Regions from separate parts of the Homo sapiens genome. Here all the other regions are linked to region 2. The links come from fine-mapping of genetic effects on gene expression. A gene starts in region 2. Each other region holds a variant in brackets. All regions are shown on one strand. Distances are from middle to middle.

Region 1 (9,805 bases), 34 kb after region 2:
TAGACAAAAATTAAATGTGCCTTGTGTCAGTATGTATTTTTACTTTTTAAACATTTGTAAGTACTATTTGTGATTAATAAAATGCAACTGCTCCTAAAAACATTACTGAATTTATATGTCAATGGAAGTTCACTAATATAATGTGACATTCTGTGGAATTTTACAATGTTACGAAGATAACATAATTCATGATAGAAAACCACTATTCTAAGATTTTCATCTTCATCAAAGTAAACTTACCCATGAAGGGGCATTTTCTGAAGAAGAGCCCCCAAACCCTTGTTTGCAGTGGTGGGAAAAGGCTGGCGGTGGTAGGGGGCATCCTTGCACCATTTTGGTTTCAGTTACAGTGGAGCTGAGGTTGGATGAAGAATCACAGAAACAGGTCAAGTGTGAGGATGCACGTACCAGCCAGGCAGGGGAGCGAAGACAGAAATGGGAAACAGGAGCAAAATGAAACAGAAATAAAGAGAGGAAAATAATTTAACAGTGAGTAGACAGGCAAAGGCAACATATGTAAAATTGGAGTATTCTAAGAGGAAAACCTAAATAAATGGAACAATGAATATTTTCACATATGAATTAATAAGGCATTCCATAAAGAAGAGTCGAATCTCCACCATGCCCCAGAAAACATAGAGATAGTACAGTCACTACTGAAACAGTCTAATCGTGTTTTCAGATGGCCATGATAAAGAGGTTCTTGAGAAGACAGGCAAAAAACAACAACAACAACAACAAATCAAGATCAAATGGGAAAATATCCAACCTGGCCTCAATTTCTCCGTGGCAACATTCACTATTAGAAGAAAGTTATGGCAATGTCTACAAAGCCTTAAGGAAAGAAAGCGTGACAGAATTGTTCACGCTTCAAACTGTCATTCAAAAATAAAAGAGGAGAAAAATATATTTGTTTATATAGGCATATAATTCCCTAGAAGGATATGTAAAAAAATGAAATTCCATTTTTAAAAAATGCAAGGATTCAGGAATATCGTCCCCATAATTCCTTCTTGAATAAACTATTGAAGACAATGTCTTCCACCTGACATTGTTCCATGGAATCACTGAGATCCTTTATGAACCTGTAGGCTCAAGCCACAGCCCATATGAATTAAATTAGAAGCTCGGTGATAGCACTGAATTATCAATACTTTTTTAAACCCCAAGGTTCAGAACGAGTGCAACCAAGAGATAAGTGAAAGAAGTACACAAGAGAACTGGCAATGAGCGTTATTTAACTGTGGGACTAAGACAAGCATGGAAATCCTAAAACCAAGGAGAACCACCTAAAAAACTGTGACAAACAGTACAAGGATTTAGGAAGGCAGCTGGGTATAAGCTACTGCCCAGAAATCAATAGCCTCCATATATTCATGCAATAACCAGTTAGAAGACAGAATGGAAGAAAAGGCTTCATATCAATAGCTATAAAATATATAAAATACCAAGGAATAAGGTTGGCATGAGTGCAATTTATATAAAGAAATCTTTAAAACACTACTGAGAAACCAAAACTTTCAACAGCAGAAATGGCATACCATGTTCTTGGATAAGATGACTTAACACTATAAAAATATCAAACCTCACCAAGTTTATCTACATAATGCAGGTCCCAATAAAAATATTAATAGAATTTCTTTTGGTACCAGATAGCCTGGTTCTAAAACTTGTATGGAAAAATTAACAAGCAATAATAACCAAGAAATTTTTTCAAAAAGATTAGTAGGGGGCTGTGCATTAATCTGTTTTCATACTACTGTAAAGAACTGCCCAAGACTGGGTAATTTATAAAGGAAAGAGGTTTAATTGACTCACAGTTCAGCATAGCTGGAGAGGCCTCAGGAAACTTAAAATCATGGCAGAAGATGAAGGGGAACCAAGGCACCTTCTTCACAAGGCGGCAGGAAGGAGGAGTGCCGAGTGAAGGAGGAAGAACCCCTTATAAAACCATCAGATCTTATGAGAACTCACTCACTATCACCAGAACAGCATGCGGGGAACTGCCCTCCTGTTTCAATTACCACCACCTGGTCTCTCCTTTGACATGCGGAGATTATGGGGATTATGGAGATTACAATCCAAGATGAGATTTGGGTGGGGACACAAAGCCTAACCATATCAGTGTGGTTAGCCTGAAGGTATGAAAATATTATAAGTCTGTAATTAATAAAACTATATGGTACTAGCACATCTCATGAACAGGCAGGTCAATGGTACAAAACGGAAAATGCAGAAGTAGATCCAAATAAATGATGAACTTTTCTATACAGTAAAAGGGGCATTTCAAACCAGTGGGAAAAGATAAGTTATTATTATTATTATTATATCTTTTTTTAATGAGACAGGGTCTCGTTCCCTCACCCAGGCTAAAGTGCAGTGGTGCCATCACAGCTTACTGCAGCCTCAGATTCCTGGGCTCAAGCAATCCTCCTGCCACAGCCTCCCAAGTAGCTGGTGCTACAGGAACACACCACTACACTCGGCAAATTTTTTTTTATTTTTAGTAGAGATGATGTCTCCCTATGTTGCCCAGGCTTGTCTCAAACTCCTGGCCTCAAGCAATCCTCCTGCCCCGACCTCCCAAAGTGCTGGGATTACAGGCAAGAGCCACTGTGCCAGGCAGAAAAGGATATGTTATTAAAGAACAGTTTGGGGACAGAGAGCAAACCATGTGGAATACACTAAGTTAATGCTTCATACCTCATACCAAAATAAATTACAAGAAAGTCAAAAGCTGGCAAATGGAACCACAAAACAACAAGAAGAAATCAATTTTTACCAAAAAAACTATATATAATTTTATATATATTTATATTATATATGTTTATAATATATTTATATAATGTATATTATATATTTTTATATACATATAAATATATATATTTTAGAGACAGAGTCTTGCTCTGTTGCCTAGGCTAGAGTACAGCGGTGCGATCATTGCTCATCGCTGCCTCGCTCCTGGGCTCAAGGGGTCCAGCCACCTCAGCTTCCCAAGTAGCTGGGACTGCAGGCATGTGCCACCACGCCCAGCTAATTTTCCTTTTTTGTAGAGATGGGGTCTCACTATCTTACCCAGCCTGGTGTCAAACTCCTGGCCTCAAGCAATCCTCTCCCCTCAGCCTCCCAAAGTGTTGGTATTACAGGCGTGAGCCACCGCAAGTGGCCGAGAAGTTTAAGATAATATTGGAAAATATTTCGTGTAAGTTACAAATCCCATAAGTTACCCCAGAAAAGATGTTTAGCTTTGTCTTACATAGACATTAAAATATTTATAAAGGCAAAAGCCAATGTTAAGGTCAAAAGGCAGCAAACAGGGAAAAAATATAATATTTGCAACTTGTGTCACTAAAACTAATTTTCACAAGAGGAACTCTAAAAAGTTATTAAGAAGGCCAATGATACGCGAGAAGGCAAAAGAAATAAAATAGTTTGTTAAAAACAAAAGGAACTACACATGGCTCTAAAACAGAAAGAAGTCCAAACTTCACACATATTAGAAGTATTCATTAAAACTACTCTAGGTTACCATCTGCCCACCCCACGCCCCAGCACACTAGCAGGGATTAGGAGATGGCTTGGCAACTCACTGCGTAGTGTAGATATGGGGACATAGGGACCCCTGTGCTGATGAGAGAGTCCACAGCAGCTATCTCCACAGAGTACAGCTGGCCAGTGTAGGTTTGGGGACATAGGGACCCCCACAGTGCTGATGAGAGAGTCCACAGCAGCTATCTCTGCAGAGTACAGCTGGCCAGCATCTGTCCACTTCAAAAGGCACATGCTGTTTAACCCGGAAGTTCTACCTCTGGGAATTTATCTTGCACCTCTACTCCCATGATATGAAATTCCAAGTCATTTGCTGCAGTCTTGCTTGTAGCAGAAAAATGTGGAAACAAACAAATTTGTCTGCCATAAAGGACTGGTCAAACCTGTTGCCATCCATACAAGGAGTGCCACGAGCTCCTGTGCACCTGTGGAAGGAGCTCTGAGCTAGATTGTTTAGCAAGAAAAGCTTCAACACACAAGTTCAGTGAAAAAAGCAAGGGCAGAACAGCGCACGGTGCTACATGTCTGTGGCAGAAAAAGGGAGAAAAGCATGCGTTTTTGAGTTTATATATTCCATCACCTTCAATATACAGCGTCGGGACACCTGACCACCTGCAGGACCCACTGTCATCCTGGGAGAGGGAGGAGGAAGCTCTCGGATCTCCTCTTGTGAAAGAGGCGAGATTATTGCTCAGCCTGGCTCCAGAGGCACGCAGTCCCTGTGCCCCGAGAAACTAACATGCCATCTCTGCTCTCCCACCGCTTCCTGGGTTGGGCTGCGGGGAGAGGCCTTGCTACAGTGGGTGCCTCATCAGCACTGTGAACAAACAGGGAAGGATATCTGGGGCCACGCAGGGAGACCCTGGGGGATCCTGGGCAGAAGCCCCTGAAGTGATTGAGCTGTTTCCTGGGCCCTCTGATGATTCTCCCTCTGCCTTGGAGGCTTGGCTTCCCCTGGCTGCTGCTAATTCTGGAGGACACAGTGGGGTGGGCCACATAATGGAGGCTGGACTGTGTGTCCAGTCCACCCAGATGCCACCATGCCTGCCAGTCCCTCTCCTCCTTAGAGCACAAGCCCTCTGATGCTCCCAGACAGTGGAAACTTTTTGTTCCCCAAAGCCCTCCAGCTGGCCGGGCTGCCCTCCCCAGACTCCCTCCTTCCTTCCAGATGTGAGCAAATCCCTTTCCTTCCACCTCGCTCTCGGCCCCTGGTTCACCTTCTGTTCCTGCCCAGGGCAAACTGCCCTATGTGCATCTCTGTCCTCATCCATGAAACCATCCTTGTCCTCACTGTCGATGGAATTTTTCAGTGATACCTAACATCTGTCCCAGAGCCATGCACGTTCCGAAAGCACATTCCAGGGGGACAGTTGTGTCCCTGGTGCAACACGGGAGTGGGCACACATTCTCTGTGCTGTGCATGGGGACAGCTCCAGGAAGAGAGAGGGCACTGTTTTCCTGTTTCCTGAGTCAATCCGCTGTAGTTCTGTGGCCCAGCTGAGTGGCATAGGCTCTCCTGACCCAGGTACCTATCAGCCCCCAAAATAGGTGTTGCCATGATTCCTTTGGACAAAATGTAAAATCTGGCTGAAGACTGAGTCCTCGTGCACCTAGCGTGACCCATGACAGCATGCAGGTGTTGGTCTGTAGGGATGCCATAACAAAGTGCCACAAACTGGGTGACTTAAAATAACAGAACTGTATTCTCTCACAGTTCCGGAGACCGGAAGTCCAAAGTCGAGGTATTGGGCCAGGTGGGTTCCTTCTGGAGGCTCTGAGGGGAAGGTGTTCCAGGCGTCTCTCCAGCTTCTGGTGCTGCTGGCAGCCCTCGGCCCTCTGGCTTGTAGACACATCACACCAGGCTCTGCCTCCGTCTCCACGTGGCCCCCTCCCTGGGTATTTGTGTCTCTGTGTGCAAATTTCTGTTTCCTTATAAGAAAGTCATTGAATGAGGGCCCACCCTAATCTAGTACGACCTCATCTTAACTTGATTGTACACGCAAAAAGCCTATGTCCAAATAAGGCCCCATCCACGGGTTCTGGGTGGACATGAACTTTTGGGGGATGT[T/C]ACTGAACGCAGTGCAGGGTTCTTACATTCTCACCATCACGTATATGATTTTATTCTTCAGGGTGCTAAGGTGTGGTGTGTGCCATGTGCTCTTAACCCCTTAGAAAAGATAAGGACAATTTTTTTTTCAGGTCCAATGTCTGAATGTATTTTTTTTCTTTCTCTTAGGATTTGAAGATATATAACAATATGTCATAAACTGACCTGAAATCCTTGTTTGTTCCGCAGCGAAATCCATTAATAATCCCTATAACTGGGACAGTTTTATGTTCCCATTCTCGGTGTGGCTATTTATAGTGAAACCTCACTTTCCCTGTGTTGGTTAACATTAAAAACTGGAACTGCTTCTGAGGTAGGAGGCGGGACTTGACTCCAGAGGCGGGGCTTGGACACTGGGCCAGATTGAGGACTAGCTAAAACAGGCCCGGTGGGGAAAGCAGTCTTCAATCAGACACGCCCACCAGCGCTATGTCAATTTACCGTTGCCATGACGGCACCCAGGCATTACCGCTCCTTTCCACGGCAATGACCCAGTGATTACTACCTCTTCCTTGCATAAACCGCTCCTTAATCTGCATGCAATTACAAGTGAGTATAAACAGGACTGCAAAACTGCCCTGAGGTGCTGCTCTCTGCCTGCGGGGTAGCCCTGCCCTGCGGGAGCCGGCAGGGAGCTGGAACACTGACACTTCAGTAAAGCTGTTTTCTTCTACCTATGACTTGCCCTTGAATTCTTTCCTGAGCAAGGCCAAGAACCCAGATGGGCTAAGCTCCACTTTAGGGCTCGCCTGCCCTGCATCAGTTTAACTAAACTATTAGAATTTTTAGTTTAAAAGAAATGAGTAAGATTGTGAGCATTCTGTGAGATGCGGAGTGAAAGAAGGTGCTGTAGTCTGAACGTTTGTGTCTCCCCTAAATTCATGTATAGAAATCCTAACCACCAAGCTGACTGTATTAGGAGGTGGGAGCTTTTAGGAGGTGATTAGGGCATGAGAGTAAATGAGATTAGTGCCCTTATAAAACAAACCCGGGGAGTTCTTTCCCCCCCCATCCCGCCATGTGAGGACACAATGGGAAGGGGGCCCTCACCCCTTCTATGAACAAGAAAGGGGGCCCTCCCCAGACACTGAATCTGCTGGCACCTTGATCTTGGGCTTCACAGCCTCTGGAACTGGGGGAAGTTAATTTCTGTTGTTTATAAGCCACCTAGTCTATGCCCTTCTGCTACAGCAGCCTAAACAGCTCAGCCTTAATGGACGAGGCACATGGAATGACTTCCGGGCCTCTGACAGGGTGCTTGGGGAGGATGGTGTGATGTTGCGTTATCACTCACAGACACTGTGGAACTGACTGGGTTGGTGGAGCGGGGACCCGGGGAAGAGTTCAGTTCTGTTCTGGGAATGTTGCCTTGAGGCAGCTGAGCACTACCCACAGGGAAAGGTCTGGCAAAGGTTCACGTGCATTCGCCTGGGCCATAGGGGAGAGGGGAGCCGTCAGCGGTCAGGGTGGTCAAAGCCACATAGTTGCATGAGGTCTCCTAAGTAGGTCAGTGGAGCAGAGTACCCAGGGTGGAGCCCCGGGAACCTCAGAAACAAGGAAGGGGTGAGCAGAGGAAGGGTCGCCCTCAGGGCACTGGGAGGGAGGAGCAGGGTGAAGGGTGGGGGCAGAGGGGAAACAGCCATGTCCATGCTGCAGAGAGACCCAAGGGAGACCCGGGGAAGAATGTCACTTGCACCTTGCAAAAGGGAGGGTCCTGGCGGCCTCAGCCAGAGCCGTTTTAGTGAAGTCATGGGGAGAAGGACCACAGAGGCTTAGTCCTGGCTGGGGCCGCAGTGGGACTGGCAGTGGAGAGGAGGGGGCCCAAGCCAGGGAGATTGAGTTCTTGGCAAAGAGGCCGGCGGCGTTCTCCACTGCGTTTCCATCCGCAGGTGCGCCTGCCGCCTGGCCTGTCCACAGTGTGCTGGTTGCTGGTATTCAGTTCTGGATTGTACCTCTGACTGGACTGAGGTCCATCAGCAAATGACGGGGCCTCGGCGGTGTGGCAGTGTGTTCAGCTGCTGGCATGCCGCCTCGGGAACAGAAAAGTCACGTTGTTGTGTATGCGGGTAACAGCTCCAGGGAGGCGTGAAGAGAACTTCCTGGCAAGGAGTGCTGCTCCAAGACTGAATGGACTTTTTTTGAAGTGCAAGGGTCTGGCCTCTGGAAGGGTGTTTTTGCTGCCACCTTTGAACTTCTCTGTGAGTTTTTAAATTTTGAGCAAATCGCCTTTTATAATCATTCTATATGTACTTTTTCTACCCAACGGCTGCATAGTGTTCTCTTCCCACAGCTGATGTACTTAAGCCCCATCCTTCTCTGGTATAAAGAACGTTGCGATGAACATCCACTGGCAATCATCTTCCTACTCATCTTTGATTGTTGCTAGAAGGGAAATTGCTGGGTTCAAAGGATGCTGACCACTTGTTAAGACTCCTGGAGCACCCAGATTTCCATCCTTCTTAATCTCGTGTTCCATTACATTGCAGAATGTAGTGACAGCCAAGAATTTCCATTCATAAAACTCAATGTAGGGTTTTCTTTGGAAGCTAACAAATGACTTCAGGCTTGTCATCAGACCATTGCACTGTGCTGACTCTGAAGAATTTGTAAGTTCTTCACATCACTTTAAGAATACTTATAATTTTACTTATTCATGAAAGCATTTAAATAAGCTTCTTACTATTAAATAATTTCTTATTGTGAAATAAACCATTTACTTCATTAACTTATGTTTTTTAAAATCAATGAAACTAAAATTCTAAGGTTAAAGAAAAAATTCTAAGGTTAAAGTAAAATACAATAGTAATTTAGCTTAAAAAAAGAAAAAATGCTGATTTTCTTATTTACTGATGTGAATTCTCAAGATGTTTTTGTATTACTTATTGAAATAATGTTAATTTCTGAGCCTGTGATTTTGAACAAAACATGTATAATTGAAGTAATCTATAATCTGTGAAACAGGTATCTCAATTTTTCTCAAAGGTTTTAATTAGAAAGTCAGGGTTGGAATCCACTCTTCACGTAAGAATGAGATGGTTTCCAGAGATACCAACAAGCCAACACATCTTAATTTGATGCCTTTTTATTATCAGCAAAATATTTAAAATTGGGGTTTTATTCTGAGTAACTTATTTCATGCTATGAAACTGCCAAAAACAACTACAAAAATAAAATGAATTTATGTTCTTTATAAAATGTTATTAATATGAAAACCGGACACTATGTGAAAGCGATATTGTGTTTATGTAGGGAGAGTGTGTTAACATTTTTTTCAGCATGGCTGAGTTGGCTGTTTTTGAATTTGAAACTTCTGCAGTCTGGGTAGACAGTGCCACCTCCCTGCAGCAAACATGGGCATCCCTTACTGTTCTGAAGACCCTCAAGCTGCAGTCAACACTGGGGTCGTTTGTGGAAGGATTCTTTCTTGCTGTCTTGATTTGCAAGAACACCTCTGAAGGTCTTTGAATAGTAAATGCTGTTTCCATGGCAACTGCAGTCTGGCTTCAGTGATCCCTTAACCTGTGTGCCTTTGGCTCAAAGCACCCAGGAGCTCACGGCCTTCCCCAGGGGCGTCCCCCTCGGTCCTGTTCACAAGCATGGACTCTGGCATGGACGGCCCCACCCTGGCTGCACCACCGATTGTCCACATGACCTCAAGCAGGTTATTTGGCCTTTCTGTGCCTTCCTTGGAAAAATGGGTCTAATACGTGGGCTTGTTTTAAGAATTAATAAGAGAACTGGCACACAGCACTCGGCACAGTGCCTGGCACATGGAAAGCTCTTGAGTCGGGCTCCATCCCCCAAATCGAGCACCTCAGTTGTCTGTAAATGGGCGCATTGGCAGTCCTGTGCAGCAATGCAAGATATTCTTGGTTTTTGGTTTCTTTTAAATTCTTTTTAGGTTTCTTTTAAAATGATCAGCAGTCTTTGATGATTTATGAGCCTGTGATTTTGAACAAAACATGTATAACTGAAGTAATCTATAACTGTGAAACACAGGGATCCCAATTTTTCTCAAAGGTTTTAATTAGAGTCAGGGTTGGAATCCACTCTTCACCTAAGAATGAGTTGCTTCCCAGAGGTACCAACAAGCCAACATGTCTTTGGTATGTTATTCTTCTTGCTCCTCTTCTTGGGTGTGGGGATTTT
Region 2 (9,805 bases):
GGAATCTTTTAAATCTTTTGAAGCCATTTATCTACTCTTTGAGTTTTAGTTAAAACTAGGTTAGGCAATCCATAAATCCTTTTAACCTGGTCCACCGAAATATATCAAAATATGCAGAAAATGATGTAATGAGAGAGCACGCCACTGCCAGCCCCTGAAATGCTTTGAGTGAGTGACCGCTTGAAATAAGCTTATAGACCAAAAATTAGTAACATTGGATTTCTAATTTTTAGTTGAAGATATATATAACAGAAATTCTATATTTGCTTCCCCTACCCCATAGATTGTCTCAGACACCCTACCCTGGAGACACCAAGTCCAGAAGGTGACTTATGCTAGTAATCCACAGATGAGGGATAAGGGGGACCAGCTGCAGAGCTTGGTGGTATCAGCAAACATGCCAAAGGAGGATCAAAATGATCAGATAGAGATGAAGGAAAAGACCAGCTGGGTATTTGATCAGATTTAGTAGAGAAAGGAGAAAGGATTTCAAAATGGTTCCAAGGTTTTTACTCCAAAAAACATGAAAAAGTTACTGGAAGTGATGGTGTCCTGGGAAGGAAGAGGCATTTATTGGGGCAGGCATCATCCACTGATTTATTTTGGAAGTGCTGTGATTGAGCTACTGAAAGATGCACCTGAAAACGTCCAGCAGGACAAAGGAGACACCATTCACCTCCTGAGCAACACATAGACCCTGACCTCAGCCAGCCCCACTTCTGGGCAGAGTGCTGGCTCCAAGTTCCATGCGTGAGAGATGGCTCTCCTCTACGGGTCCTTCAGCATTCCTGGGGGGGGGCTGCAGTTCTCCTGCCCTGCTCCAGCTGTAATCCAAAGCAGGGCTTTCCATCCTCTGGGAACTGGAAGAGCAAGGCTGGAGTGCTGGTGAAAGAGGTTTGAGGTAGGCCCACGCGGATGATGCTCTCAATGGACCCAGAGTGAGTCACGTTATGGCCCACATGATGGCTCAGATGGCTCTCTGCCTGAGAAGCTCTGAGTCCTCATGCAGACTGGACGCCCCTCCGTAGCTGCTCATCAACTTCCTTTCCCAGCCAGCCCCCAGGGCTTGCCCACTGAGCTCCTGAACCAAGGCAAACTTGCGCTGGGGACGGCGCCGCTGTGTGGTTTCCCTTGCCAAGGCTTCCCTGGCTGCCTCCACTTTCTCGTGGAGGCTTCCTGAAGGTGGCATCTGTATTTTTGTGAAGGGACTTGGTACCAGGCTTGGAGATGAACATGTTAATTCTCTGGCCCTGGACATCAGATCTGTGATATAGTTTCTCAATTTCCTGCTCTGAAGTAAGCCCTGGTGGGTAGTGTCACCATCTGGAATAGGAAAAGGGCTAGATGGGAGGGGTCAGTAGTGCTGGTGGCAGAGGCCAGTCTTCTCAGTGGAAACAGGCTCATGCACTTCCACGCAGGGAGGGCCGACGGTCAAGGGTGGAGGAAAAGCCACAATTTTTCGGTGAACCCATGGATCAGCATGATGGAGTCTTGCAGGTCTTTATCTTCCTCCAGGAGGCACCCCAAGCACGGAGAAGACCCACCAAGCTGCCTGATACCTCTGTCTAGCTCCCCTCTGCCCAGACAGGAACTGCTGTTCACCATTCATTCCAGACCTGGGCCTTTGAGGACAGGAGCTGTAAGGATGATTGATCGATTGCCTGTGTGTGAAGCCCTGGAAGGGCTCTTGCCTAGAATACTGTCCCTACCCTGACAAGGTAGAGGCCATGGTCTGGATGGCGGTGGCCCCCCCATTCATATGTCAAAACCTAACCCTCAATGCAAGGTGGGGCCTGCAGGTGACCAGGTCCTGAAGCAGAGACCTCATGAACGCGATGAGTGCCCTTACACAAAAGCCTGGAGGGAGCCCGTCTTCCACCATGAGATGACACACAGAAGGCACCATCTGTGAGGAATGGGCCTCAACCAGACACTGATTCTGCTGGAGGCTTGATGCTGGACTTCCCAGCCTCCACAGCTGTGAACAATACATTTCCGTGGTTTTATAAATGACCCTGTCTAAGGCGTTCTGTTACAGCAGCACAAAGGAACTAAGACAGTGGGCACCCGTATTTCCATTTAGAGGCGGAAACTGACTCTGAAGTGAGAACCGGTCCACTCTGAGAGCACATCGCCAGGGGAAGAGGACTGTAGCCAGGAAGTTGTTATGTCATGGGGTCATGGGAGGACCCAGCAATGTTGTTTCTGATGATTTCTGAAAGGCGGCTCTTTTCTGGAAGTGGACAGATGATGGGGGAGGGGCAGGAAGCTGAATTCACCACAGTGTCCGAGAACACTGTCTACCAGCGGGAGCTGTTCAGACACACCTCTGGCCAGTCCCCACGGCAGTGAATCTCCTGTCTCTGGACAACAATCCAACAGGGAAAGTGGGGAGGAGGGTTGGGAACTGAACTCTGTTCCACAAGTTCAACCACTGCACTCCACTAAGCAACTGGCACAGCCAGTCCCTGGTGAAGGCTTAAAGATGAGGAAGATGGGGTCAGCGCCTGCCCTCCTGGCCTCAACACATCAGGATGGAGGATTTAGGTGTTAGCAAAAAGTGGCTCAAAGTTCCAATGAAGGACAGGGAGCAAAGGGAGACTTCTTTTAGAAAGGAGACGTTGGAACTTGGATATGGCTTTAGTTAAGGAGCTCCAGGCATCTCAAGTCAGCCCTGAGAGGCAGCAGCCGTGTCTGCCTCTCGGACAGCTATGCCCCAGCCTCCAGCTCAGCAGCTGGCAGGCAGCAGGTGTGGGTGCAGGAATGAGTGAACTCATGGGGACCAGCCTCGGCAAAGACGCACAGTCCCCACAGTGCCCCAGGGGCTGGGAAACAGTGAGCAGCCACCAGCAAGACCAAGGCAGTGCAAGTGGCCACGGCTCAAGGTTTCCCCCAAGGAGGACTATGTCACTTAAGGAGTATGGCCTCTGAAGTAATGTAAATATGGCCTGGAAGATTCAGTCAACACCTATTTCCTTAGTGCCTACAATGTGCAGGTGCAGTTTCTGCTCCCGGAGTTCAGTCATGAACAATGCCACAGTCAGCCCTGCCAACCCACCTGCGTCAGCTCAGGCACCCAGAGCAATGTCACCTGGATCTGCCCTCCCTCCCATGTCACTGGACTCGCTGTCTTTTCCCTGCAATGAAACCTCCAACAGCTTTCCCTGCCACTGTGGGTGGAAGGGCCCTCTTCCTCTTCCCACCTTCATACAGCTTCCAGGCCACCTCCTTAAGAATCCAAAGCAATCTGGTCACACCACTTGGTGGGAAATACACCGAAATGTTAACTGTCCTTATCACTGGGGGAAAAAAATCACAGGTGACTTCAGTACAGCCTCCTCTCCTCTACCATCACTACCCTCCCTCCCATCCTTCCCCAGGTCCAGCCACACTGAAGTTCTCCCCATACCCCAAACACACCAGTAACTTTCCCACCCGGTGCTCCTGCCGTGCCCTAGGCAGGGGCTTTTAACCCCTACCTAATCCTCCGATTTGCTTTACTTTTAAATCCACCTCTGGAGCATAGACTGTGAGCTTCAGAGAGCACAGGTAAGTTCATTACTTTTTCAACAACTAGGAGAGAGCTGCGACGCACCTGCCCCGATCCTAGAGGCTGGGGACCCACCAGAGAAGTGACAAGTCCTTGATCTCAGGGGGCAGACAGCGGGGAGAAGGATGGATGCTAGCACGGAGAACACGCGTGTAAAGACAGAAACGCACACATCCACACCATGCCGCTGTGAAGCCGGCGCCCAGGAGGCTGGCCAAGGTCACAGGAGCGGCGGTGGCGGGCGGATCCGAGCACCTCTCGGCCTGACCCCAGAGCCTAGCTCTCACCCCGGCGAGGGACTTCCACCCCGACTCACCGCGGAATGGGGAGCGCCAGGCTGAACCAAATCCTGTGCTCACCCCTCCGTGCAAACCCCTCAAGGCAACTCAGGCCTCTGAAAGCCTTCCTACCCCCCCGCTCTCCGCTCAGGTCCCCACTCAACCGGTGCCCACCGCCCTGGCGCGCGTCGCTCCGCGATTACCGGCCCGCCAAACAGTCCCCGCAAAGTCCACCCTCCGGGGCTCCCGGTCCCTCAGGTCCCGCGTGCCCGGCCCTGGGCATCCGCAGCGTCCCCGTGGTATCGGACCCCCATCGTCCCTGACACCTGGCGTCTCCGCCCCCCGCCCCCGTCCCCCGCCCCGCCGTCCCTGGCCCCTGCAGTCCCTGGCCCGCGCTGCGGACCTCCGGCTCTGGCTTCCCCCGGGTCCCCGCGGCCCCCGTCCCCCCGCGTCCCCGCGTCCCCGGCCCAGCGCCCGCTGACGCCATGACGCCGCGGCGGAGGGAGGGGCCGGGGCCGGGGCCGGGCCGGGGCGGCGCGAGCGGCTGGAGCAACGGGCCCCGCGGCAGCTGCGGGCGACGCGGTCGATGGACATGGGCACCCAGGGATCGGGGCGCAAGCGGCTCCCCAACCGGGAGCGGCTCACGGCGGAGGACGACGCGCTCAACCAGATCGCGCGGGAGGTGAGCGCTCCGGGAGGGCAGCCGGGGGGCGCCGGGCGGGCGCGGGGGCCGGACGGCTGTCAGGGTCTCTCCGGCGTCCGTCTGTCCCGCTGTGCGTCTGTGCCACTGCGCGTCCGGCTCCAGGCGGGTGGGCCGGGCAGGCGCGCGCCGGGGCGCTGATCCCCAGGCGCTGCGCCCCGGCCCCGATCTCCGAGGCCTGCGGACCCCGCACCCGTTCTCCAGCCCCGGGCCCAGCCCGCGACGCTGCGCGCCCTCCCCCACCCCGGCCACCGTCGGCCGCTGCGCCCTCGGGAGAGGAGCCGGGCGCCGCCAGCGCGCGAGGTGGCCCGGGCTGGCCGGGTGGGGGCGAGCGCCCCGCTTTGTTGTGCGGCATGGGAGGAGGCGGGGGCTTAGGCCCGACCTGGAGGCAGTGGACGGTCGCCGGAGGCCACATGGCCCTGCTGAAATGGCCGAGTCGCTCAGGTGACCATTTGTCATCCATCCATCGATGTCACTCAAGGTGCAGCTCAGAGATGAACTTGGGGATCACTGTGATTTTTCTTTCAGGACTGAGCCTGGAAACGGGTCCAGGCACACTGAAACGTCTTCATTAAAGTTTCCTGGACAGAGTTTATTGTAACTAAGATCATGTTTGGTGATGAACTTTACCTGTGACAAATTGAAGGCGCACTAGAATGGGTATTTGTACAAATGCCTTTTTTTTTTTCCTTCCGCAAGGATTCTACCTTAAGGCTAAAGAATGTACATGACATCCAGAAAGCCGTACAGGGACAGAGAGCAGCAGCTTGGGAAAAGGGGAGCCAATAGGTTGCGGCCCCAGGGGGACAAAGGAAGCTTAATTTTTGACTGTGTTCCCTTTGTACCATTTGAACTGTGTGCCAGGTGGGTGTATGAATGCAAAGAAAGTCTCTGCCTTGTAACCCGCCTTACAGGTTCTTTTCCGTGTTGGCTTTTCCACATGTGATTCTTCCCACAGGAAACACCTCCAAGCCATTTGGACTGTGGTGTCTGGCTGTATCCGTCAGATATTCTGGGGGATCTACTCTGTAACCAATCCTTAGGTGTTTGTAGTTGTAAATACCTGATTTTGCTCTTACGGACATGTGGCAGTCACTCAGTATTTGTTGACTACTGAGTGAATAAAGACTTCTGTTTTTCTCTGTATGATACAGAAAAGGGCTTTCCAGGCAAACCCTTATTCATTCCTGGAAGCCCACTGTGACCTCCAGGAGACCTTCCAGACTCAGCCCTCTCACATCGCACCAGGCCTAAGTCTCCCTGGCTCCACGGCCCTCCATGGCATGCCCGCGCCTGGCATGGCAGTCAGGATACCTTATCATTATTTGTCCACCTGTAGAAGGTGACACCCAGACAGGAAATATCTTACTTTTGTATCCCAAGAGCTCAGCACAGAGCCAGGCACATACTAGGTGTTTGTCTATGTCTGTTACATTAATTAATAAACAAAAGAAGTACAAGGCATTTAAAGGACCTTTGGCTAAATATAGACATTTGCTAAATATAGTAGCTTGAGTATAACTCCCTCCTGTGAAGACAGTCACTTATGTATGCATTTGACCACAGTGCCTTACAAGTGTTCCCTGCAAGGGCCAGAGGTGGCCAGTGAATCGCAAGCCTTGTCTTGATGTCAGTGGTTATGGGGCAGAAGAATGAGAAGAATGAAAATTTCCAGAGTTTGCCTTTTATCCACTGGTGTTTCTTTCTTCTTTTTTTTTTTTTTTTTTTTTTTTAACACAGTCTCACTCTGTTGCCCAGGCTGGAGTACAGTGGTATGATCTCGGCTCACTGCAACCTCCACCTCCCAGGCTCAAGAGATCCTCCTGCCTCAGCCTCACCAGTAGCTGGGATTACAGGCACGCACCACCACACCCGGCTAATTTTTGTATTTTTAATAGAGACGGGGTTTCACCGTGTTGGCCAGGCTGGTCTCAAACTCCTGGCCTCAAGTGATCTTCCCGCCTTGGCCTCTCAAAGTGCTGGGATTACAGGCGTAAGCCACTGCGCCCAGCCTATCTGCTGGTTTTTATAAAATAGATTGAAAAGGAAGGCAAGGGAACACTCCTTGGGTTGAGAGCCCTGAGGTCCTCCCTCCCACCGAGGGAGATGCAGTTGGAGTTACAGAGATAGACTTGTGAGTCAGAGCTGGGCTTTCAAATGACATAGTTCTTAGCCAGCTGTGCCATCCTAGGAAGGTGAGTTACTCACTCTTCTCTGGGCCTCTGTTTTCTCGTCTCTAAAATGGAGAAGAAGAAACCTCCCCTGGCTGTCAGAATTAAAGAAAGTGGGTAGCAATGTAAAGTATGTAACTAGGCGGTGGGTAAATATGAGAGCTTCTTACACGCCCCTCCCGGTAAAACCCAGCCGTAGGTGCAGCTGTTACTAGTGCTGAGTAGCACAGATTGATAGGGTTGGAGGGAGCAGGTGTGACATCTTATGTTTTAGTACAAATTAACTTCTATTTCTCAACTGTGAAAATGAAAATCACTATTCAAATGGCAAATATCTACTCCTTGAATTCATCAGGGTTCTTATAGAAATCAACAAAATCGTCTTGGGTTCAGTACTTTCTTATTCACTCATTGACTCAACAGATACAAGCCATGGTATCCAAATTCCTGTCCTGGGGAGACTGGAGAGTCAGGGAGGAACCCGGCGAGGACCTGCCTGCCCTCCAGGAGTTGGGTCAGAAAGGGGTTGACACCTGTAGATCAATAATGCTAACCGAAGACAGGAAGGGATCTGATATAAAAAGGGCGTAGACAGTGTTCTGAAGGTTTGGACATGAGAGAGAATCACAGCCGGCCAGTGGTCTCAGAAGTGGCTTCCTGGAGGAAGTGGCATTTTGAGTTCTTGAAGGCTGTATGTACCAGTCAAGATGCTTTGGCTGCTGGGACAGAAACCCTGACTGGACTGACATTGACAAGGGGAAGTATATTGGCTGGAGCACAGCAAGCCCGGAGGCAGGGCAGGATTCCCCGCCAGCCTCACCAGTGGCTCCGGCCTCTTTTTCCCACAGCACCTGCGCAGCTGGTTGGGCTGGGCCATCCTCTGTGGGTGGCCTCATCCTCAGGCTGACTTGCTTCATGGAGGCCAGCTGGCCTTGGCTTTCCCGGGCTGCCACTGTGGAGCCCACACACCGTCTCTTCTGGTGGCTCTCTCCAGAGAGCTAGCAGTATCTCCCTGGTAAACTTTCATGAGTCTGTCTGGCCACTCCTGCACCAAGCTCTTTGACAAGGACCATGGACTTAGGGGCTCAGTGCCTGTGGCAAAGGGGGGTGGGTCTACCCTGTGACCTGTCAGACTCATCCTGGGACTGGGGAGAGCCGGCCTCCCTGAAACACTTGGGAAGGTGGGGGCCTGAATGGAAACTGGGGAGGCTTCAAGGAAGTGGGAGGGAGTGGGCTGCCACTTGGGCCTGGCACCCAAGAACATGCCTTCTGGAGAGTAAGTGGAAAATTCTGGGCTGAGGTCATTGGGAAGCCTGAGTCACCTGGCAGGGACGTGGGTTCCAGTTCGCTGGAGCGAGGGGAAGAGCTAGGCTGCCCTGTGCAGGCAGGGCTTTGCACTCTTCTGGGTAGAAGCAGGACTCGTGGTGGGGGCAGCCTTTGGAGGGTGCATTTCTGCTTCTGCAGCCGGTGTCCTGCTTCCATGTGATGGTTTAAACTCTAGGCAAGCGTGTATAGTAAAGGGAGTTATTTGCAAATGCTGTATTATCGCAAGTCAATTATTTCTCACTCTCTTGTTGCAGTGGAATTCAGGCGGGATGTTATCAGGAGAAAGGTTTAGTACGCACTTGCAGAAGCTCATTAGCACCAAAGGCATGAGCTGCGCCTCCCACTTCTGGGGAGGGGTGTTTCCAACGCAGATAGATTTTCCTCTCCTACCGCATTTCACATTCTACTGGTGCATTTTGGTAGCATCCCAAACTTCTCATTCAGCACTCTGCAGCTGAGTAAAGCGATACTGGTCTCACCATGCAATTCAAAGTATTGCTCTCAAATGAAGAATGTTTTTCCCAACAGGAACAGTCATTTGCGCAGGCTGCATTAGGAACTCACCGTGGGGCCTTGAGACAGTGCGGTGAGCTTATTATCCCCTGGTGGTGCCATAGGTACCCCTTCCTCACCCAGCAGGACGGAGGCCCTCCCCCCATAACTGTTTCTGCAGCCTCCTCTCCAAGCTGGCCCCTCTGTGGCCTGCGGCCTCGGGCCCTGATCCATGGCAGGGGCACTGCTGCCCCACCCGGCTGCTTCACCGGCCCCAAGTTGACTCGTGGGCCTGCGGGTGCTGTTGGTTCAGGCCTCACAGCCACCGCCTTTCACTTGAGCCACGGCCACACAGGAGTCCAGTTGCGGAGAAGGGGTCGCACTGCCCCCAAGGAGTCCAGTTGTGGAGAAGGGGTCACACTGCCCCCAAGGAGTCCAGTTGTGGAGAAGGGGTCACACAGCCCCCAAGGACTCCAGTTGTGGAGAAGGGGTTGCATTGCCCCCAAGGCAGCCTGCAGCCATCAAGTAACCATTTTGTGAGGTCACAAAATGTCCCCCAGGCTTGTTTCAAGATGCAACCAATTCTGTGGTACGTTTCCTGCTCCGGAGCTCTCTGCGGGCCAGGCTGAGGCCAACTCCTGCCGAGACCACCTCCCTCCCCAGCCCTTCCCTGACTGGCCTGCCCCCCTCATGCCCCTGCTGGGACAGGGCTCACATCCAGTCCTGCCATGGGCTCTGCTTCTGGAACCCAACATAAAGCCATGCCCCTTGTTTCAGGTAGTTCGTAAATATCGGGTCTTTTCATCCTAAGTCCCCCTTTCATTCATCTTTTCTCCCTGTCCTTCCCAAATAGCCCTCCTATATCAACCTGTGCGGAGGGAGCCTGTCTCTCTTCTCCTCAAGGCTGTTGGAGAACCAAGCTGGGGATGGGGTGCACGTGTTCTTTTCCAGAACAGCCCAGAAGTGGGGTTCAGTGTGGAAACTTCGCTCTACCTCTCTCCAGCACTAACCTGACCTGGCTCCTCTGGGGTGGAGAGTCCAGGACTGAGCCCAGCTGCAAAGATGCAAATCTGGGTCCCCAATGCAGTCCCTTGCCCTCTGGTGAGGTGACCCTGGGGCCAGAATTCACCTGCACGCAACCAAGATGTCAGACTTGTCCCTAGGCCTATTTCACTTGATTTGAAAGTGAATTTCATGACTTTTTTCTCTATGAATTTGCTTTTCTGAGGCTGGCCAGCAGATTGCACACCAACTGAGTGCTGCTGGACACTGGTTTGCCATTGGGGCT
Region 3 (9,805 bases), 71 kb after region 2:
TGCATCTTACTACGTTTCTAATGTCCAAAAATGCTGAATTCTGAATCATGGCCCCAAGGGTTTTCAGAGAGAAGTTGTGAACCTGTAGGAGCTTTTCTTGGTAAATGGTAGCAAAAACTGTATCAGAGTGAGACATGGTGAACAAAAGCAAAATGCAGTTCCTGTTAAGAGGCTAATGTTCAGGTAGGGAAGGAAATGTGCTGAGTGGTGATGGGAATTGGGGGTCATCATGGGTGGGGGGTAGGGCGTCACCCAGCGGCTGCCCTGGGCCATGGGCTGGGTATAGGCACAGGAAAGTGGTTGTGGGTGTTTCACACTGGTTTGTGCCAGTTCTTGCTCTGCATTGTGTCCGTGGGTTCAGGGATGGGTCTCCTGCGGAAAGGAGGGACTGGGGGCCGCACCCATGCAGAGGAGAGCCGGGTTGGTCAGAGGAAGTAGATTTGGCAAGCTCCACCTCAACTAGAAGACAAAAGCAGGATCTGAGTGGGAGCCTGGGCTTCTTCAGCAAGTGGGCACCAGCCCTGGAGCTGTAGGAGAGGGTCCGATGCGGACAGTGGAGACACTGTGCATTTCTGCAGCTTTTGTAACTTCCCTGTGTTTGCGATGGCTTGTGTCACCCCGCTCTCTTTCCACATACTGATTAGCATTCAGCCCTTCTAAATGACCAGCACTGTCCCAAGAAAGGGCTGTTAGGGGAGAGCGTGGACACACAGTCTCCCAAGTCCCATCTCATTATAGGTACCTGGGCCAGGGTCCCCAGGTGTGGGAGAGTGGAGTCTTGACCAATATGGGGATGAATCAGTTGGCACGAGGCGGGCTGGCCCTGCTCTAGCTCAGTCTGAGATGGTGGAGCGTGGAATCATATGGTGTGTGTTTTAGGCATGTCATTTCCCCGGGCAGGTAAGACATAAATATAGTAAGGTAGGTCTTTTCTAGTAGTATTGAGAGTGTCCTACTGGGGCAAAGATGGAGACTAAATTTCCCTTTTTCTTTAAGAGTCAGTTTCTGTTCAGCCTGAGTTAATATCCCACAGCGGAAGCCTCCTTAGCAAATTTCAAAAAACCCTGCAGTCTCAACTGCCACTTATGCTGAGCACAGGAAATCAAGTTATTTATAGTTGCAGAACGGTGTTTCAGCGAAGTTGATTGGAGAGTTACCTGATTATAGTGAGATTCTTATCCAATCCCTACAGAATTGTGAGACTAAATGTTGGTGCAGCATGTTTGGTCCTCAAAAGGCAATGTCCAAGAGGAACTTCTTATCCCCGAAAAATCAGGCTGTGTGACTCAGCAAAGGAATTGTTTATGACTGGTTACTCATATGCCAGTGCTTCCAGAATATCTGCTCGTATTTAAAGGAGTGATCTTGAAGCCCCAGAGGCCATAATGTTTAGATTACCAACCTCTTCACCAATCAGTAAGTCCATTACATCTCACTACGTGTTAGACATGGGACAGGAGAAGAGGATTTTTATTACCTCACTGTTATTACTGGAGGCCGCCCAAATTTGTTTTTTGTTTTTTTTTTTTAAATAAAGAAGCTTGTTTTCATGGAATGGACTTACTAGAACTTTTATTATTCAGACTACCTAGATAAAATTAAGTAAATTCGTTTCTTTCTCCCAAATTAAATATTTTGACTACATGCAAGATTTAATCATTCAAAATTGCCATGTATTTGATTATAGACCAGTAGTATAATCCCCCTGCCCCAGGCCAGATTCCAAAACAATAAACCAAAACACACACACACCTGGCAACAGAAATTATATGTATTCCGAGACTCATTCATTCATTTTGGAAAGGGCCAGTGTTTCCAGTGGTTTCTCCTTGGGATTGTAACTTTACAACTTTAAAACTAGGTAAGTAGTTTTCCCTTGAATCTAAAGTATAACTACTTTGTAGTAGAGAAGTAATTTATCTTAAATCACTATAATGAAGATTTACTCTTAATTTTAACCAAAATGTTTCATTTATTTGTGTAATGAAGATGATCAAAGCAACGCCACCTGTGATCCTTCTGTCTTTTTTACTGTATGTGGCACGTGGCTGTGTGATTTTCCTAGGGAAAGGAGTGGGCTTTCCCTGTGGGTTGAGAACCTCTGTCCCCCTCCTCTGAAGTTTCCCCAGTTTTTCCTGCTTCTCTGCTAGGTGGGTGCCTTAGCATGCTTGTCTTCTCATCGTGCTTCTAAACTTCTCTGAACCGGATTTATACTCTTAGGTCAGTAGCTGTCAAAGAAGACACTAAGTAGTGAAAGTAGCTAATATTTACCAAACCCCTGCTGCGCCCACCTGGTGTTTTATGTGAAGGTCTTCTCTAACCCTTGCTGTAACCTCATGGGGAGCAGATCGTTTTCTCTCAGTTTTTCAGATAAAGAGGAAACTGAGGCTCAGAAAGGTCAGGGACTTTCCAAGCCCTCACAGCTAGTCAGCAGTGGAGCCAGTTCAGACCCAGGCCTGCTGACTCGGAACTGGTACTGATAACTGTCACCACTGTATGCAATGCTGCAGGCAGGGGCTGGCAGGTAGTAAATGTGCAAGATATAGCTGTGGCTGCCACGGCTGCTGCTGCTGCTTTTGTCGCTGTTGTCAGCTTTTCTTGGCAGCCCTGCTGTCTCATACCCCAGTATTGGGGCTGAAGGATTTCTTTTTACCAAAGCTGCCTCTTAGGACAGAAGTCCTTGTCTTGAATGCATACTGGGAAGTCTTCACTCTGTCAAACTTTTCTGTTCTCTGCCTGGTAATTTCCAGACAGAAGAGAACATTCAAAGAACGAACTTACTTTCCTTCTTTTTTTTTATTGAGACAGTCGTGCTTGATTGCCCAGGCTGGAATGCAATGGCACAATCTCAGCTCACTGCAACCTCCGTTTCCCAGGTGCAACCGATTCTCCTGCCTCAGACCTCTGAAGCAGCTGGGACTACAGGTGCCTGCCACCTCACCCGGCTAATTTTTGTATTTTTAGTAGAGATGGGGTTTCACCACATTGGCCGGGGTGGTCTCAAACTCCTGACCTCAAGTGATCCTCCCATCTCGGCCTCCCAAAGTGCTGGGATTACAGGCATGAGCCACCACACCCGGCCCAATGAGCTTTACTTTTCTACATAAGGAAAATAATGGTAGAAATGAAATAGCTGTGAAACTTGTTTTGCTATTTTTGTACCATGCTAAAATGTTAACTACTGCTTATGTCGGCATACACCTGAGAGCTGCTGTGATTTAAGCCTTTTTATTTTTCTGGGTATGATGTAACTCCTCCCCTACCTCATCCAAGTAGATAAGTTCATGGAGGATAAACATGACAGCTGCTGTTTCTTTTATAGCTGGTTCCAGGGAATATCCACTGAATATAGGAAAGATTGTCAGTTGCTGTGTGCTGCCCTGGTGCTGGTGGAGCTTTCAGCCTTCTTCTCAGAGGAAACAATTTAAATGTTTTTGTGAAACCCTAGAGGTCTGGGGTTTGTAGGACAGTCTTGAGCAGAGCAGGCAAAGGTGAAGGGAGTGGAGCCCAGACGTGCTGCCTGGAGGGAAACCTGTCACCTGGAGAGGAAACGGCACAGGGGAGGCCCAGCCGCCCTCGCCTCTCAGTCCCGCACGTCTCTGTTAGTGGTAGTCATGGTTCTTGTATTTCCATCATGTTGAGGCAATTGAAGGAAATATGAAGATTCATTCATCTCAGGAAAAGCAAGAAATGTATTAACAGCAAGAGTAGAAGTTCACTTGCATGGAAGATACTGTATAGCGTATTTATTTCTTAGCGCCAGTGGGAGTAGCTGCTAAGCCCAAGATTGTGTTGTGAGGTTTGAATAGGTCAATGTGTGAGTCATCAATAAAGTAACATCAATCATTTTGTTCCCGATTAATACGTTTGCTATTTTAGGATGCGAAGGACTTTAAAGAAGCTTATTATTCTGAAAAGCAAAGCCTGGAGATTTCCAGTAGCAAAACAGACACAGTCTGTGGACAATCTCAGTGTACAAATAATTCACCTCTGGCATGAACCCAAAGAATTTCAGAGGGGAAGGAAGCTCTTAAAGATTACGTCCCCTCCTACTTCTTTAATGAGGGCTGGGGTTCAAAAACCGAGTAACTTATCCAGGCTCACATAACTGTAGGTGACAGAGCCCAAGCTGGAGGCTGTGGCTGGGTCTTCAGACTCCTTTCTTGACAGTCTGCACCTGCATAAACTCAGACCTTTACTGAGAACAGTGCAGCCATAGCTGAGAGAAGCAGTCGGCACCCAGCATTTCTTGGACTTGTCTGCCAGGTCCCCCGAGTGCAGAGGACAGTGTGCTGGCTCCTGGGGCCTGTGGGCCCGGCCAGGAGCAGCCTTGTAAGCTAAAGCCTTCTTTGAAGGTGGCCGTCTTACCGTAAACTTTCATGGTAATTTCAGTCTACTCCATAATTTGTCTGAGTTAATTTTGATGGAAACATAGTGTTTTAAGTAATCAGTTAGGCTTTGATCTCTAACTTTATGCCATCCAAATCTTCATGATGGCCTGAGCACCAGGCACCCAGACCTGTGCTCTGAATTGTGCCGGGGCTGGTTCATACAGTGTGATGGAGAGACGAGAGATCCACACTGGAGTTCTGAAGCTGTGGTTCTCAACCCTGTCTTTTTACAAGTTCCTTAACTTCCTTACTAGCCTGAAATGAAATGCATAGGTGAGAAAGTCAACCAGCGCACATAATTTCGAGTCAATATAACATTTCCTTAAAAAATAAAATACAGGTAGTTTATAGTAACATAATAAGAATTTTGATATAGAAATACTCAAGACCAAGTACACCAGCAGTTGAATGCAGTGATGAGACCTGCACACACCTGTGCCTGGCGTCACAGGGAGGCTGACACAGGTGTGTTGCACTGAGACCCACACACCACCCCTCATGTTGCTGTCTATGACGTGACATTCTACAAAGTTGACTAACTCTCAGGAAAGTTCTGAACAAAGCCAAGTATCATCATCTTCCTTCAATTTCCATGTCGATTGCATTCCTGGAATAGTTCATGTATATTTGAACTGTGTAAAACATATTTTGAGTTTATATGTAAGTTGCAATCAGTTTGTAAATCCAAAAATTAAAAATAGTGGTTTTTCTTTTCTTTTTTTTTTTTTTCTTTTTTTTTGAGATGGAATTTCGCTCTGTCGCCCAGGCTGGAGTGCAATGGTGAGATCTCGGCTCACTACAACCTCCGCCTCCCGGGTTCAAGTGATTCTCCTGCCTCAGCCTCCTGAGTAGCTGGGATTATAGGCATGCGCCACCATGCCCGGCTAATTTTGTATTTTTAGTAGAGATGGGATTTCACTATGTTGGTCAGACTGGTCTTGAACTCCTGACCTCAGATGATCCGCCTGCCTCGGCCTCCCAAAGTGCTGGGATTACAGGCGTGAGCCACCGCACCCGGCCAAAACAGTGGTTTTTCTATCTTCCTGAGCAGTCAAGGGAAAAGTTCTTCCCATCGCAGGCGTGTCTGAATGCGGGATGGTTGGCCGACCTGGCCCTGCCCCCCCGCCCCAATACCCTTAGCTTCTTCCCAATCTTTTTGACATCCCAGTCCCCCCAACATTTCCAAAATGCCCTCTAAGTCAACACTTCCGCCACTGCCAGCTGCCACCCCAGAGTGCCCTGTGCCTGGTAACGATCGTTCTCACAGTCATGGCCGTAGGGAAGGCTCTTTGTGGTTCCTGGGGGACTTCGTGAGATTGCCCACATGAGCATTTCTTTTGGAACTGAGATACAGTGCACATCGCCTCTGGGGGACATGGGGTGGTGGGTACACGGA[A/G]CCGAGGTGAGCCTCCCTTGCGTTGCGGAGGTGCTAGCCTTGTGCCGTCCGTTCTTGTCCACGTCTGTGCAGGAGAACATCACCCGGCCCACTTGGTTGCTGTGAATAGCAAACTTTAGAGGCCACTGCATCTGAGGGTTGGGGGGTTTGCAGAGAAAACAAAAGTTGGTGGCTGTGGCTACTTCCTATAGCAAAGTGGCTCAGGAAAGGGATCCCGTGTCACAGCCTGGGTACACCACGGCCCCTCCAGGAGCTTGATTCCTTCTTAGCTCAGGGGAAGAATCGCACAAGGACCGAGGCCCCTGCTTGTCTGTGAACAAACTGGCCTTTGTGGCCACTTCAGGCTTCGGCTGCATCATATTCCTGTCACATTCACGTGAGTGAACTTGAATTACATCCTTAACACTTTTCCAAAAAGGTTATAAACTAGACTGGTGATGTATCATGGGGCCTAGAAAAATAATGCTGCTGCTTTTTCACTTCTCTGCTTGACGCTAAAACCTGGAGGCGAAAATGAATGTGTGTAATTAATAGGAGAACTTCCTCCTGTTTGCAGAGTGCTTTACAGCTGGCAAACGGCTTCTCTCCCTGAACAGCCCCGTGGGGCGTCATTTCCATCTGACATCTGAGGAGAGCTGCTGTTCATGGTCCAGTCCTCTGTCCATTGGCCCACTGGGTGTCCCTAATATGCGCTAACAGGCTCCTGGCAAACGGCGGGCATGGCAGCCACGAATCTGCACATGAGCTGTATGCCCTGGGTCTCCCCTGGGCTCTGCGGGGGGAGGTGGGAGCCGCCTCTGGTTCACATGCGGTGCTTTCCAGGCTGCAGGGCCTTCTCAGCCTGGGTGGAAGGAGTGACGTCAGAGTATTTCTCAGGAACTGCCTGCCCTAAAGTTGTGGCTCATAAACCCCTTCCAGCTTCTGTGTAGAATTCTGGACCCCTAGGGTATCACCACAGAGTTTAAAAGCAGAGTAAGAACATTTCCTGTGACTGTAGGGTGAGAGGCCCTGGGATCTGTAATTCTACACTAGGCTGGAATCCCAGAAAAGCTTCAATGCTCAGGAAATGTATGAGCAGTGCCAGGATCCCCTGAAGGAGTGTGGGGCTTTTGAAGCAAGCTGCCCAGCGAGCCTCCCGCAGCACCTGCTGTCCCTTTGCCAGCAGTCAGGGCCCCTGCCCCACCAGTGTTGGTTGTGTTTCTGTTCTTTGAGGAGACCACATGATGATCTTCTGGTAGGAGCCACAAGAAGGATACAAATGCCATTAGAGCTGCTAGAGCCCCAGACGTCACTGGAATTGGGGTTCAGGGTGTTGGGCTGTCCCCACCCTTAGGCAGTACTCCCACTGCCTACAACACCTCCAGCGCAGGCTGAGGCCATGCGAGGATGGAAGCACATGTGGGCTAGGCCAGGAGGGCGTGCGGGAGGGCTCTCCACTCTGCGCTCCGCTGGGGTTTCTCCTTGTGTCCTGGTCAATAACTTCTTCTCTCTCTGGTTCTCCTTGGCCTGAGCCCCCAGCCTGAGCCGGGCTGTCCCTGAGTTCCCTGACCCGGAAGAAGGGACGGCCATTATCTTTGGGTGACTGTCTTCTTATAGCTGGGAATCTCTGGGGCTCTGAGCGGGAGGCCCATGGGGAGCCCTGGAAGAACAGGCATGGGTTAGACTGTTTACCTCACTGCCCTGTGTGCCCTGCCCCGGTAGAAGCCGTTTCTGCTGTGTGGTTCTGTCTAGAACTAGAGCCCCTCAGGGCCCTCTGCATGCCGTGGGGTCCCTTTGCAAAGCACCTCCTAACATGTGCTTTTATCTGTGGCTCGGGATGGGGATGGTGACTTCTTCACGCAGTCTTCTGCAGGCCTCTCCAGCCTGGCTCCCGAGATGTCACGCATGGGTCCATGCAGCCCAGAAAAGACCCTGCAGGGGGAGAAGGGTCACTTTGGTGCCTATCTCCCCAGCTGGCCTGTGGGCTGGGTGCCTGGCAGATGGGGCTCCCAGGGAGGTGCCCCCATAGACTTGGGCTCCACAGCAGGCTGTGGGGCTGGCATTAATGTGGCTGGGAGAGCCTGGCTGTCTTTTTAGCCATTTGTTTCGGAGGCCCTGGGGGTCATACTTGTGCTTCCTCGTGTATTTTTAGATCTCTTATCACCGTACACACCACCTCCCTATCAGAGGGCTGTCATATTCACATATGGTAAAATAAGACGCAACAATAGAACTCGAGTCGTGGTTCGGCTTTCTAGGATTAGGACAAGGAGGCAACTTTGATAGTAAATGGAATCTTTTTTTCCCAGCCATCCCCACCCTCAAAGAGTATCTTGCTGTAAGACCTAGTTCCTGTAAAACTCTGTCTGTGGGGTCCCTGGCCAGGATGGGTGGGATCCCAGGGAAAGGGCCAGGCTGTGTGTTCTGAACAGGAATGGTTCTGGACCAACCATTGTGGGCATTCCTGAGAAGCCAGGGAGCCTGGATCTTGTCAGAGGAGCTCCTCCCTCTGCTCCATCCTAACCCCGCGGGCAGCAGCAGGAACTGAGAGAGGACACGGTGGGGGCAGCGCTGCAAAACCCAGCAGCGGGCCACCTTCCAGCAGCAGAAAGCATGAGTTTTGGTTTTGGGGCTCTTCCATTTCCTTCCTTCTTTTCTTTCTTTTTAAATTTTTGCTCTTTGTTATGAAACAGCAGCCAGACCGAGCTATGCATGTCCTGCTGCACGGCAGGGGCCCTTATCTTGAACGACTCCACATACTGGGCAAGGAGGTGGCAGGGGGAGGGGCTTGTGGGAACCCAGATCTGGGATGGGACTCAGCCAACAGTTTAAAGAGCCCTGTGCCCCCACTACCCAGCCTCAACAATTGTTAGCTTATAGCCGTTTACACCCCACCCAGGTTATTTGAAGACAAGTCAGAGGGAGATAATTTCACTGTACTCCTAAATGTTTTAGTATCTCAGCAAAGATTGTATGGGCAGAGAAAGGAGGCTTCAGGGTGTAGGACCCCAGGAGCAGGCAAGGGCTTGCTCTTTCCCTGTTGGCTCCTGTAGGGTGGGGACAGACCAGCCCCCATGAACCCTAGCGAGGGCCATGCCAAGAAGCCGCTGTTCTAATCTAATCAGTGGAGGATCCAGCAAGCTCGGATGGGAGGGAAAGAATGACTCAACCTGCAGGCCGTCTGGGGTATGCACAGTCTCGTCTCCTGAGTTCTCTGAAGCCCTTTGCAGTTTTTGCTTTGTATCCTAAACTCCACAGGCCCGAACCCTGGCACTGAGCTTGATCCGCTGCAGCCCAGCCCGTTCCTGTCCCCATGCTGGAAGCAGCCTGTCAACTCACTTCCTTGGTTTCCTGTTGCTCTTCCCACCCCATACCTGCTCCCCACATTTCTATCAGAGCCCTGTTTCTAAAACAAAAGTCAGATTCCGCTGTGTTCTTAAAACCCTTCAGTGGTTCTGAATTCTTTCAAGACGAGGTTCCAGATACGGAGGCTGAGGGCGAGGGTCTGCACCCCAGGCGTCTGCACTCCTTGTCACCAGCTCCTGGTCGCAGCCACCCCGGCTCTGCTTGTCCTGTTTCAGGGTCCGGCTTAGGGCTCCTGTCCTGCGGATGCCTTCCCCAGCCCCCCGGGGTTGGGTCAAGTTCTCCAGAGCAGCCCCCGCCCCTGCCACACGTTTCTTCCCCCATGTGGTCCTCATCACATGTACATTGTCACCAGGTGCTTTGCCTGTTTCCCTGGAGACTGGGCACCCAAACCACATTTCAGAAATCCCTCCCACTGTCTCAAGCAGTGCTGAGACAGCATGGCACGTTCACAGCACAGTGCATTCCTGTGGCCTCCCCGGGCCACGGTCAGCCCACAGGCTACTCACAGAAAGTGACAGGCCGTGTTCAGAAGCTCTTCAAGCAGTCTGACGTGGCTGTGGCCCGTCATGAGATTTTATATTTTACAAAAGTGTCAGTCGATAAAGGATTTGTCCTGCGCCACCGGAGCACTGGCCTGAGGTGCCCTGATCCCCGAGAACCCCTGCCTGCACAG

Alleles and levels. Positions count from the first base shown, and alleles are read on the strand shown. Sizes are in standard deviations (SD) of each study's normalised expression. Not every link is listed here.
As copies of C replace T in region 1, the expression in pituitary of the gene that starts at base 4,357 in region 2 goes up (moderate effect, 0.46 SD a copy in GTEx).

Evidence for each region. PIP is the estimated chance that this variant, and not a neighbour inherited with it, causes the effect.
Region 1: its variant is the best candidate, but not a certain one, in a credible set for the expression of LRRFIP1 in pituitary (GTEx, PIP 0.86).
Region 3: its variant is the best candidate, but not a certain one, in a credible set for the expression of LRRFIP1 in blood mononuclear cells (TOPMed, PIP 0.69).

The regions. Positions count from the first base shown.
Region 1 is chr2:237,656,771-237,666,575 of GRCh38, forward strand. The region is part of intron 1 of LRRFIP1 (LRR binding FLII interacting protein 1); the gene reads left to right. Among named protein-coding and RNA genes, the nearest start is that of LRRFIP1, 34 kb to the left of the region's middle. RefSeq lists enhancers at 5,913-6,454, 7,441-8,009. The variant T/C (reference allele first, on the strand shown) is at 5,618.
Region 2 is chr2:237,623,231-237,633,035 of GRCh38, forward strand. It overlaps LRRFIP1 (LRR binding FLII interacting protein 1), which reads left to right and starts at 4,357. Exons shown (of 24, transcript NM_001137550.2): 1 at 4,357-4,510. The coding sequence starts at 4,415. RefSeq lists enhancers at 7,764-8,263, 8,266-8,827.
Region 3 is chr2:237,694,241-237,704,045 of GRCh38, forward strand. The region is part of intron 1 of LRRFIP1 (LRR binding FLII interacting protein 1); the gene reads left to right. Among named protein-coding and RNA genes, the nearest start is that of LRRFIP1, 72 kb to the left of the region's middle. RefSeq lists enhancers at 342-521, 2,844-3,053, 6,160-6,209, 6,220-6,269, 8,572-9,452 and 1 more and a silencer at 4,117-4,166. The variant A/G (reference allele first, on the strand shown) is at 5,788.